3 linked regions of the Homo sapiens genome follow. The protein of the gene in region 3 interacts with the protein of the main gene of each other region in a pairwise test. Each region holds a gene or a part of one and is shown on either strand. Other genes may lie near its edges. The genes, in order: ABCC6, BTG3 and CRYL1.

What was found.
Region 1: the proteins of CRYL1 (region 3) and ABCC6 interact in a two-hybrid assay, tested with the Homo sapiens proteins (one large-scale study listed by BioGRID and IntAct).
Region 2: the proteins of CRYL1 (region 3) and BTG3 interact in a two-hybrid assay, tested with the Homo sapiens proteins (one large-scale study listed by BioGRID and IntAct).

Annotation. Positions count from the first base shown.
Region 1 is NC_000016.10:16,181,986-16,185,640, forward strand, and holds part of ABCC6 (ATP-binding cassette sub-family C member 6), read right to left. Parts: intron 3,050-3,655; coding exon 2,974-3,049; intron 946-2,973; coding exon 819-945; intron 604-818; coding exon 427-603; intron 1-426.
Region 2 is NC_000021.9:17,593,124-17,596,027, reverse strand, and holds the end of BTG3 (protein BTG3), read left to right. Parts: intron 1-1,695; coding exon 1,696-1,935; 3' UTR 1,936-2,375; downstream 2,376-2,904. UniProt on the Homo sapiens protein: Overexpression impairs serum-induced cell cycle progression from the G0/G1 to S phase.
Region 3 is NC_000013.11:20,431,794-20,435,448, forward strand, and holds part of CRYL1 (lambda-crystallin homolog), read right to left. Parts: intron 2,054-3,655; exon of another isoform or gene 1,985-2,053; intron 504-1,984; coding exon 309-503; intron 1-308. UniProt on the Homo sapiens protein: Has high L-gulonate 3-dehydrogenase activity. It also exhibits low dehydrogenase activity toward L-3-hydroxybutyrate (HBA) and L-threonate.

The sequences.
Region 1 (3,655 bases), on a different chromosome or scaffold from region 3:
TCACAGTTTGCCAACCCCTGCCCAATCCATAGCTCCAGATGCATATATCCTGTTTCTTGGACATCTCTGTCCAGACCCCTTGGTGAGGCCCAGAGAGGGGAAGCAATTACACCAACATTACTCAGCAAGGCAGGGCAGAGTAAGACAGGAGTCTAGGTCTTCTCACTCTCAGTTGTCAGAGAGCTCCTCACTGCCAATCCCTGCCACAACTCCCTGCCTCTCTCTTTGTGTCTATTTCTGCTTATCAATTAGTGATTACGTATTGAGCACCTAGCACGTGCTTGACGCTGAGCTGAGCCCTTTTTCTCCGCTACTTCCCTAACCATTCCTCTCATTTCTCCATCATACTGCCCATGATGAGTCGGGGACCCAAATGACTCCCAACTGCAATGTCTCCCTGTCCCAAAAAGACCCCCAAACTCTCACCTGCTCCCCAATTGAAGTGTGGATTCCCTCAGGGAAGCTGTCCACATCTGGCTGCAGGGCACAGGCTTCTAGTACTCTCTCCAGCCAGGGTGGGTCCAGCTCCTGCCCGAAGCACACATTCTCTACCACAGAGGTGTTCTGCACCCAGGCCTCCTGGGGCACGTAGGCCACAGCACCCTAAAACACAACTTACTTTGGTCACAGGAGGATGATGGGGACAGAGGTGGGATAGGTTTTGAGGAGCAGTGGGAGCTGGGCTCTCAGTGGTGGGTGAGAGGTGGAGAGAATGAGTGAAAGTGAACTTGGCTGGGATGGGGAGGGTGGGAAGGCAGCGAGGAAGTGGGACTTTCAGGATGGGGACATCCTAGCAGACAGGCTGGGGGTGGCCTCACCTCGATGCTCACGAACCCCTCCACCTTTGACAGCTCCCCAAGGAGGGCGGACAGCAGGGAGGACTTCCCTGCCCCCACTGGACCGACAACAGCCAGCAGACAGCCCTGGGGCACCGTGAGGTTTATTCTGGACACGCAAGAGGGGAGACATGACCTTGGTTAGGGTTCAGCCCGCCTCTGTGAGGAAGGATGAGCCCCAGACGGAGCTGAGCTTTCCTGCTCTGGGAGTCTCCAAGAGGACCTGTGGGGCTGTTCTTTTTCCCAGTCCTTGTCTAGCTATTTGAGGAACTATCCTGTGCACATCTGTGCATGTACACATGCACACAAAGCGTGCACACATGCATGCACATTTGCACACTCATACAAGCATGCTAGCATGCACAGCAACACAATGTGGGCACGCATCCACACACACACAAGTGCATGCACATACCCAATCAATCCATGCTCACACGCATACATGTGTGCACACATGCACACCACGCACACACACACAGGGTTGACTATAGCCTGAGGGTTTCACCAGCCTGGCCTCCTGCCTTGGCTCTTGCGATAAATAGGCTCTTTCCTCCCTCCCTCCCGCTACTCTTGGTCCCGCCCCACTCCTGTCCACGTCCCACAGCCCATCCTCCACCCAGTGACCAGAGGGATCTGTTAAAACCCAAGTCAGATCGTGACACTTCCCAGCTAAACCCGCCAGCACTCCCATTTCACTCAGGGTCAAAGCTAAAGTCCTGACGATCAGGAATGACATCTCCCGCCTCCTTCCGCTCTGTGCCTCAGCTGCTCGGCCCTGGCCTTGCTGACCTCCTTGCTGTTTCTTGAACACAAAAGGCCAGTGGTTCTCACCAGGGGGTGACTGCATCCCCCAGGAGTCATTTGGCAAGATCTAGAGATATTTTTGGATGTCACAACCAGTAGGGGGTGCTGCTGGCATCTAGTGGGTAGAGACTGGGGTCAGCTAAACATCCCACAATGCACACGACAGCCCCCAACAAAGGAGTTTCAGCCCAAAATATCAACCGTGCTGAGGTTGAGAAACCCAGGTCCAGGCACTCTCCTGCCCCAGGACCTTTGCTGATGCCATTCCCACCGCCTAGAAGGTTCTTCTCCCAGGCCGGGCACGGTGGCTCATGCCTGTAATCCTAGTCCTTTGGGAACTGAGGCAGGTGGATCACTTGAGGTCAGGAGTTGGAGACCAGCCTGACGAACATGGTAAAACCCATCTCTACTAAAAATACAAAAATTAGCTGGGTGTGGTAGCATGCGCCTGTAATCCCAGCTACTCGGGAGGCTGAGGCAGGAGAATTGCTTGAATCCGGAAGGTGGAGGTTGCAGTGAGCCGAGATCATGCCATTGCACTCCAGCCCGCGTGATAGAGCAAGACTCCGTTTCAAAAAAAAAAAAAAAAAAAAAAAAAAAAAGAACAGCTCTTCTCCCAGACACTCCTTCCTTATGATCTCGGCTTGAATGCAAAGCCTTCCCTCGCTAGACATGCCATCGTACTCTGTTCCCTTGCTCTGGTTTTCTGTTTGGGCCTCACCTCTATCAGCATGTCACCCCACGAGAGCAGGGCCCTTGTCTGTTTCCTTCGCCCTATCCCCAATACCTAGAACAGAGCGTGGCCCATACCTAGTGCTCTATCGATGAAGTGAGTGAATGACAACCAATACAAATACTACCTGGGGCATATTCCTTCTCTTCTTAGGGAGTTTCAGGGCTGTCTGAGATTTTTGGCCACAAAGACCAAGCGATAGAGTTGGAGACTATAGATGATCATGACCTCGGACTGATACAGGAGGCACAGAAGTGAGCACAGCTGATAGGGCTGAACCTTGGGGCTCCTCTCAGCCAGCCCTCCCTTGGCATCGTCTTGGCCAGCCTGGGAGCACAGGGGTGTCTCCCCCTAATGGGGGAGGCTCAGATGCCCTGGTCCCCGTCTGCAGGAGATACTGGTCTATGCTGTGCAGGTCCCCACCTTCAGGAGGTAGAGATGTATCCTGAGAACCTCCCCGGCAGAGCCCCAGCCCAGCCAAACCCACCCTCCAGTCCCAGGCTGGAAACCTACACCACCTCTCAGGTGGGAGGCAGCAGGAGCCCCATGCATCTTCTCCCTAAAAACATGAGGCTGGTTACTACGGGTGTCGTTCTGTACCTGTGGAGGCAGGGAGGGCTTTCCTGGGACCAGGCGAAGGTGGCACTGTGTATGGTGATGCAATCCTTCCCGGCAGCTGCAGGGCACAAGAGGCCATTTACAGGAGACCCCTGACCTGGCCGGCCTCTGCATCGGAGAGGCCCCCAGGCACCATCCCCCGCCCCCCCCAGGGGCAGAGGCTGCAGGAAGAAATCTCTCCCACTGAACAAATTGCCCTGCTACTCACTGGCTTGTGGGTGACCCCGCAGGGTTCTTGTTCTGTCCGTGTCCCATGGCTACATAATCCAGGGGGAGGCAAACTGTGGCCCAGAGACCAAATCCTGCCTGCTGCCTTTTCTTATAAATAAAGTTTTATTGGAACACGGCCACATCCATTCATTTCTCTATTTCATGCTTTGAGCAGTTGTGACAGAGACTGTGTGGCCCACAGGCCTAAAATATGCACAATCTGGTCATTTATGGAAAAAGTTAGTGAATTTCTGAAATAAATTATCATCAAATCCCAGCCTTCCCAGAGTGAAGGGGGTGTTATTAATTTCACTGTGGCCGGCACAGTGTCTCATGCCTGTAATCCCAGCACTTTAGGAAGCAGAGGTGGTAGGATCACTTGAGGTCAGGAGTTTGAGACCAGCCTGGCCAACATGGCAAAACCCTGCCTCTACCAAAAAATACAAAAATTAGC
Region 2 (2,904 bases), on a different chromosome or scaffold from region 3:
CCTCATTTATGATCAGAGGAATGCAGATTAAATCCATATGAAACACTAGTTCTTCCAGAACTGCACAATTTAAAAGCCTGACAGCATGAAATGTTAGCAAGGATGTGAAGCAGCTAGATTCATAAACTTGCTAGTCATGTAAAATAGTACCACTACTTTGGAAAACTGGAACTTTTTAACGTTAAATGTGTAACTCTTCTATTACTCAGCAGTTCCACTCCTAAGTATTAAATATTTACCAAAAGAAACGAAAATATGCCTATAAAGCCTTCTATTAGAATTAACTGTGCTGTTATTCATTGCAGCATTGTTTTGTTCGTTGTGTATCATTGTTTTTTTAATAGTAAGAGACTGAAAACAGCCTCAATGTCCCATTACTAGGAGACCATTTAATTTATAGTCATTGCTATACTATCTAGCTGTAGAAAAATGAGAAGGATCTTTATGTATTGATATGTTTCTGAAATGTATTATTATGAAATGTAAAAAGCAGGATACAATCCAGTATACATATATATTTTTAAAGTGTGTATAGATGTGGATAGAATATCTCTAAAGGTATATTTAAAAAAATGTTTGGTGTCAGTTGCCCTTGAGAAGGGTTAAGATAAAGAAGATAAAGGGTGAGATAAAAAAAGAGGGACTTTCCACAGTTTACCCTTTTGTACTTTTTGAATTTTCTATCATGAATGCAATGCTATACACAATATAATTTTTTTAAAAAAATCCTATACTTAGAAATGCAGATTTGAGATCAGCAAAATCAGAAATTTAAGAAGATGTGGCATTCTAAGCAGAGAGGTCTAAAACTGCTGATAAGAACACTTTGAATAATGTGAACCTGACGTGCCCACCTGATTTATGGGATAATCTAAAACTATTATTCCCAAATACTAAACTGGCTACATCAGAATCACCTGGGGAGCTTTGTCAAAATACCTGGCCTCTAGTTCTGAGATTTTATTATTGTTCATTAGACCAGTGCTAGGGCATGAATGTTTTGTGTTTATCTTTTTTTTTTTTTAACTTTTATTTTAGGTTTAGGGATACACATGAAGGTTTGTTCCATAGGTAAACATGTGTCACAGGGATTTGTTGTACATATTATTTCATCACCCAGGTGTGAAGCCCAGTACTCAATAGTTATCTTTTCTGCTCCTTTTCCTTCTCCCACCCTCCCCTCTCAAATAGACTCCAATGTCTATTGTTTCCTTCTTTGTGTTCATAAGTTCTTATCATTACCTCCCACTTATAAGTGAGAACATGCGGTAGTTGATTTTCTGTTTCTGCATTAGTTTGCTAAGGATAATGGCCTCCAGCTCCAATGTTTTGTATTTAAAAGCCTCCAAGTGACTCCTGGCTTAGCCAGCTGTGGAAACCACTGGACTAAAACAAGCATGTCCTTACAAGCTTCCATTCGTTCCATGTTTTGGTCTTTTTTGGTTGAAGTTGTTTAGGAAGTACTGTGTTTGAGTTTATTCATTTCTTTATGCATTCAGAAAACATTGGTCACCTGTTATACATTATACGCCTATTACACATGAGGTTTTTAATGTATTTAGACCTGACAATAGGAGTGTCACTTAGATGTGATCTCAGTGTTGTGGGTAACTTTGTTTGTCTTTAATGAGAAATCTGGAACATAGATGATGATTTTTTCCTTTGAATTAACTTAATGTGTTCTCTTCCCTACAGATTTCAGAACTTATATTTCCACCTCTTCCAATGTGGCACCCTTTGCCCAGAAAAAAGCCAGGAATGTATCGAGGGAATGGCCATCAGAATCACTATCCTCCTCCTGTTCCATTTGGTTATCCAAATCAGGGAAGAAAAAATAAACCATATCGCCCAATTCCAGTGACATGGGTACCTCCTCCTGGAATGCATTGTGACCGGAATCACTGGATTAATCCTCACATGTTAGCACCTCACTAACTTCGTTTTTGATTGTGTTGGTGTCATGTTGAGAAAAAGGTAGAATAAACCTTACTACACATTAAAAGTTAAAAGTTCTTACTAATAGTAGTGAAGTTAGATGGGCCAAACCATCAAACTTATTTTTATAGAAGTTATTGAGAATAATCTTTCTTAAAAAATATATGCACTTTAGATATTGATATAGTTTGAGAAATTTTATTAAAGTTAGTCAAGTGCCTAAGTTTTTAATATTGGACTTGAGTATTTATATATTGTGCATCAACTCTGTTGGATACGAGAACACTGTAGAAGTGGACGATTTGTTCTAGCACCTTTGAGAATTTACTTTATGGAGCGTATGTAAGTTATTTATATACAAGGAAATCTATTTTATGTCGTTGTTTAAGAGAATTGTGTGAAATCATGTAGTTGCAAATAAAAAATAGTTTGAGGCATGACAACGCGTGTTTCTGTTGTGTGCATAAAAGGGGAAAAGAACGGGTATTTCCCTTCAATGTATTTAACTAAATAGCAAAAACATTAAACAGAACGTAAGAATTTTAAAATTTCCTTTGAAAAATCAACTATTAACCATACTTTTCCTAAAAGACCACATATCAGAATATGCATATGAAAAGTTAAAAATTTGTTAGTGGTAGTTATTGAAAATATAATAAAACATCTTTTAACTATCAGTGTCACTATACATAGGGTTTTTTAACAAAGAATTTGGCTCGTACTAATTTTGACATGACATCTGACTTACATGTCTAATGCCATTGCATAAAGTAGATGTGTTCTTACAGCTGCTCTAATCTCTGTGCCTTGTGCTTTTTTTAAAAAACATTTAAGTCTTTACTAGAGGCCTAAAATAAAGTCAAATAATACAATACTTCAGATTCTTCAGTAGTCCATATTTATACAACTGTAATTCCATCAGTCTTGTAAGGGTACTTGAACTACAAAAAGAAAAAAAGAGATATCTCT
Region 3 (3,655 bases):
TGGGCCACATAGGTTATTATGTCTAATGCTATGAAAGGGCAGGAAGGAGAGAAGCCTGTCATCGTGTCCTGGTATCAGGTGACTGTAAGAAGAACCTCTCAGGCAGACAGTGAATCGCTGCATTTTATTTTGGTTCTAAAGCTGGCCCTTGGTCTCCAGAATAGAGCAAGAAGAAGCAAGCAGCCTCTGACTTTCCCAGCTTCCAGGCTGCCCAAGGAACAACTTTCACTGTCCTGCTCAACTTTGAGAGGGAGGGAAGAAGGAGGGAGAAAGGAAGGGAGGGAGGGAGAGAGGACGGGCACACACACCTCCACTAGCCGCCAGGCCTCGCTGATGATTGCATATTGCAGGCGGTTCAGAACGAAGCCGGCCACCTCCTTCTGGACTCGCATGGGGCACTGTCCAATCTTCTTCATCAGGGCGTGGGTTCTGTCCACTGTCGTAGGGGCCGTCTCCGGGTGGGGGACCAGCTCAACCAGCGGGATGTAGTATGGCGGATTCACCTTAGGAGAGAGAGAGAAGTGGGGGAGTCAAGGAGATGATCCTGGGTTTGGGGAACTGCACCCACCCTGAATGGTCAGGAGCAGCAGATGCATCTTTGGAATGGTGCCTTTAGATTCAGTGGCCAACAACAAGATACTTGAGAAAGAAATTTATTCACAAAGGAGAGAGAAAAAGGGAACCTGATGCAGAATTGTGTGGTTTTGTTTAAAAAAAAATACCCAAAATACAAAGTTGGAATTTGGAGGAACAGCTTGCTATCCTGTATGTTTATGGCTAATCTTCAAGCCCCTGGCCTCCCCAGGACAGAGTTTCTCTGCTCCCATCTGTCTTGTCTTCAAAGCTTCCTCCCAGCCCACCACCCCCCAGAATCATGTCTTCCCATCTGCAGTCACCACAGGCTCTGACATTCTTCTGTGTCAGTGTTAAAAATTATTGGCAAGCTGGGTGCGGTGGCTCACACCTGTAATCCCAGAACTTTGGGAGGTCGAGGTGGAGGGATCACTTGAGCCCAGGAGTTCAAGACCAGCCTAGGCAACACAGCGAGACCCTGTTTCTACAAAAAATAAAAAAATTAGCTAGGTGTGGTGTTGTGTACCTGTAGTCCCAGCTACTTGGAAGGCTGAAGTGGGAGAATCATTTAAGCCCAGGAAGTGGAGGCTGCAGTGAGCCATGATTGTGCCATTGTACTCCAGCCTAGGTGACAGTGCCAGATCATCTCAAAAATAAATTATTAGCAGTGTCTTCCCAAAACCTGGTATTTCCTTAATTCCTCCATATTGTACCTTAAGTGTCTGCCTCTTCCAGTCTAATGTCACCTTCCTGCTCTAGAAATCAACAGGCATCAACACACCTCAGCAGCCCCAGCACCCCGACGAGCCCAACACAGGAAGGCATTGTCCAGGTGAGCATGCCCCAAGGGAGGACCCTGGACTTCACTGTTCAACTCTGGTGTTCTTGGTTTACTTTGAGAAACTGTTCTTAGAGATTCCTCACAGAGAGTTATCAAATGTCCAAAGAAAACAGTGCCTGGTAGAACCTGACTGGCCTGAGCACTGAGCCAAGTATACCACAGCAAACAGAAATGATGCTTTTCAATGGGTTTTCCTCCACTACATGGGTGATAGGTAGAATGTCACATTTGCTAAGTGATGCTTCCATGAGCAGAAGCTTCCATTTAAAGATGACTCCCACAGAAGAGGAAAGGAGAAATAAGGGCCATCCTGGGCACCTGCTCTGCCCTCTCAGGAATCAAGAAAAGACGGCTCCTGTTTCCAAATAGACAGATGGTAAATCGATGCCTCGGTTAAACACCTGTCACCTACTGAATTCTTATAGAAACGCTTAACCTCTGACCTTTTGAAAAATGAAGATTAGAAGAACTGGAAGTGTGTCTTTCTCAGATGAATTTTACCTTATTTTATATAAAGCAGGCATGCTGGGATTGGGGTCTTTCAAACATTGTAAGCCTCACTGGTAGCAAAAACAGACTGAGACAAGGAGTTAGAAAGCATTTCTATGTACAACTCACCAGTTCCCTCCTCTCAGTCTTCTCTGCGATTTTTCCTGCTCACACTTTCACTGAGTGATGGTGACCCCCAGTCTGCCACAGTGGCCCATCTGTGCCCACTCCCTGGTGTCACCACCACCAAGACTTGAGGACACAGAATACACCTGCATGTCTCACACAGATCCCAGCCTCACCCTGGCCCACATCTGCAACTGAGTGCTGGACGCCTTCCCTTGGGCACACCCCAGCACAGACTTGTCTCATGTGGGTTATCCCCATGGTCCCCAACCCTGGCAGGCTCCTGATCTCAGTGAGAATGTGTCACATCCCCACACCCAAGTCAGTACCAGGAGAAATGTTCCTGGCCCCTGCCTCTCCCTAGCCCCTCTCACTTTCCATTGAGAGGTGAGGCCAGCTGGACTCCCTGGGTCAAGTGTGAACTTGGGGAGCTTTTCTGTCTTACAAAAGGATTGTAAAATGCACCAATCAGGAACTTTCCTGTCTTACAAGAGGATTGTAAAATACACCAATCAGCACTCTGTAAAACGCACCAATCAGTGCTCTGTAAAACACATCAATCGGGGCTCTGTAAAACGCACCAATCAGCACTCTGCAAAACGCACCAATCAGCGCTCTGTAAAATGCACCAATCAGCAGGATTCTAAAAGTAGCTAATCGGGGGAAGGATTGAAAAAAGGGAACTCTGATAGGACAGAAATGGAACAGGGGAGGGGCCAATTAGGGAAAAAAAGCTGGTCACTCCCCCCACCCACCCCTACCGCCCACCCACACCCACACGCGCCCCCCCACCCACACCCCTACACCCCCACCTGCAGCGTTAACCCACTCCGCTGTCTTTCCCTGCTGTGGAAGCTTTGTCCTTTTGCTCTTCACAATAAACCTTGCTACCACTTACTCTTTGGGTCCGTGCTATCCTTAAGAGCTGTTAACAATCACCACCAAGTCTGTGGTTCACGAAGTCAGCAAGACCACAACCCACCAAGACCAACTCCGGACACACCATCAGTTACTGAAGTCCTGTTACTTCTCTTTACTCTTCTCTCAAAAAAATCATTGCCACTGCCACCCTCAGCTCAGGGCCCCCGTTTCCATATATATTCTGCACTCCCTTCATGGGACTCCTGCTGGGGTCTCAGCCCCTCTATCTCATCCTCCCAGAGCAATCCGTGTTGTAGCGGGAGCCTATCAAATCCACAGCAGCAGCAGAAAGCTAGGTTCAGGTGCCGCGGCTGGGGTGGAGCTGTGGAAAGTTAGTGTTTCATGGGTAGGAGGTTCAGTCTTATAAGAGGAGAAAGTTCCATGGATTGTTGGTGGTGGTGGCTGCACACCAGTGAGAATGTCCTTAATGCCTCCAAACTGCACACTTACAAATAGTTAAGACGGTAGATTTTGTTATGTATATTTTACCACAATTATACATTTTAAAAGTAAAAAACAGGACTTTGATCATGCCTTCTCCAACGAAAAATCTTGAAGGGCTGCCCAGCGCCCACTGTACAAGGCACACGGCTGACTAGGACGCAGGGGCCAGCGACTGGGCCCCACGCAGCCCCCCAAAACAGACTTCCATTCACACCGACTTCCATCCACACCTCCGTGTCCACCTACGGAAGCCGCCGCAAA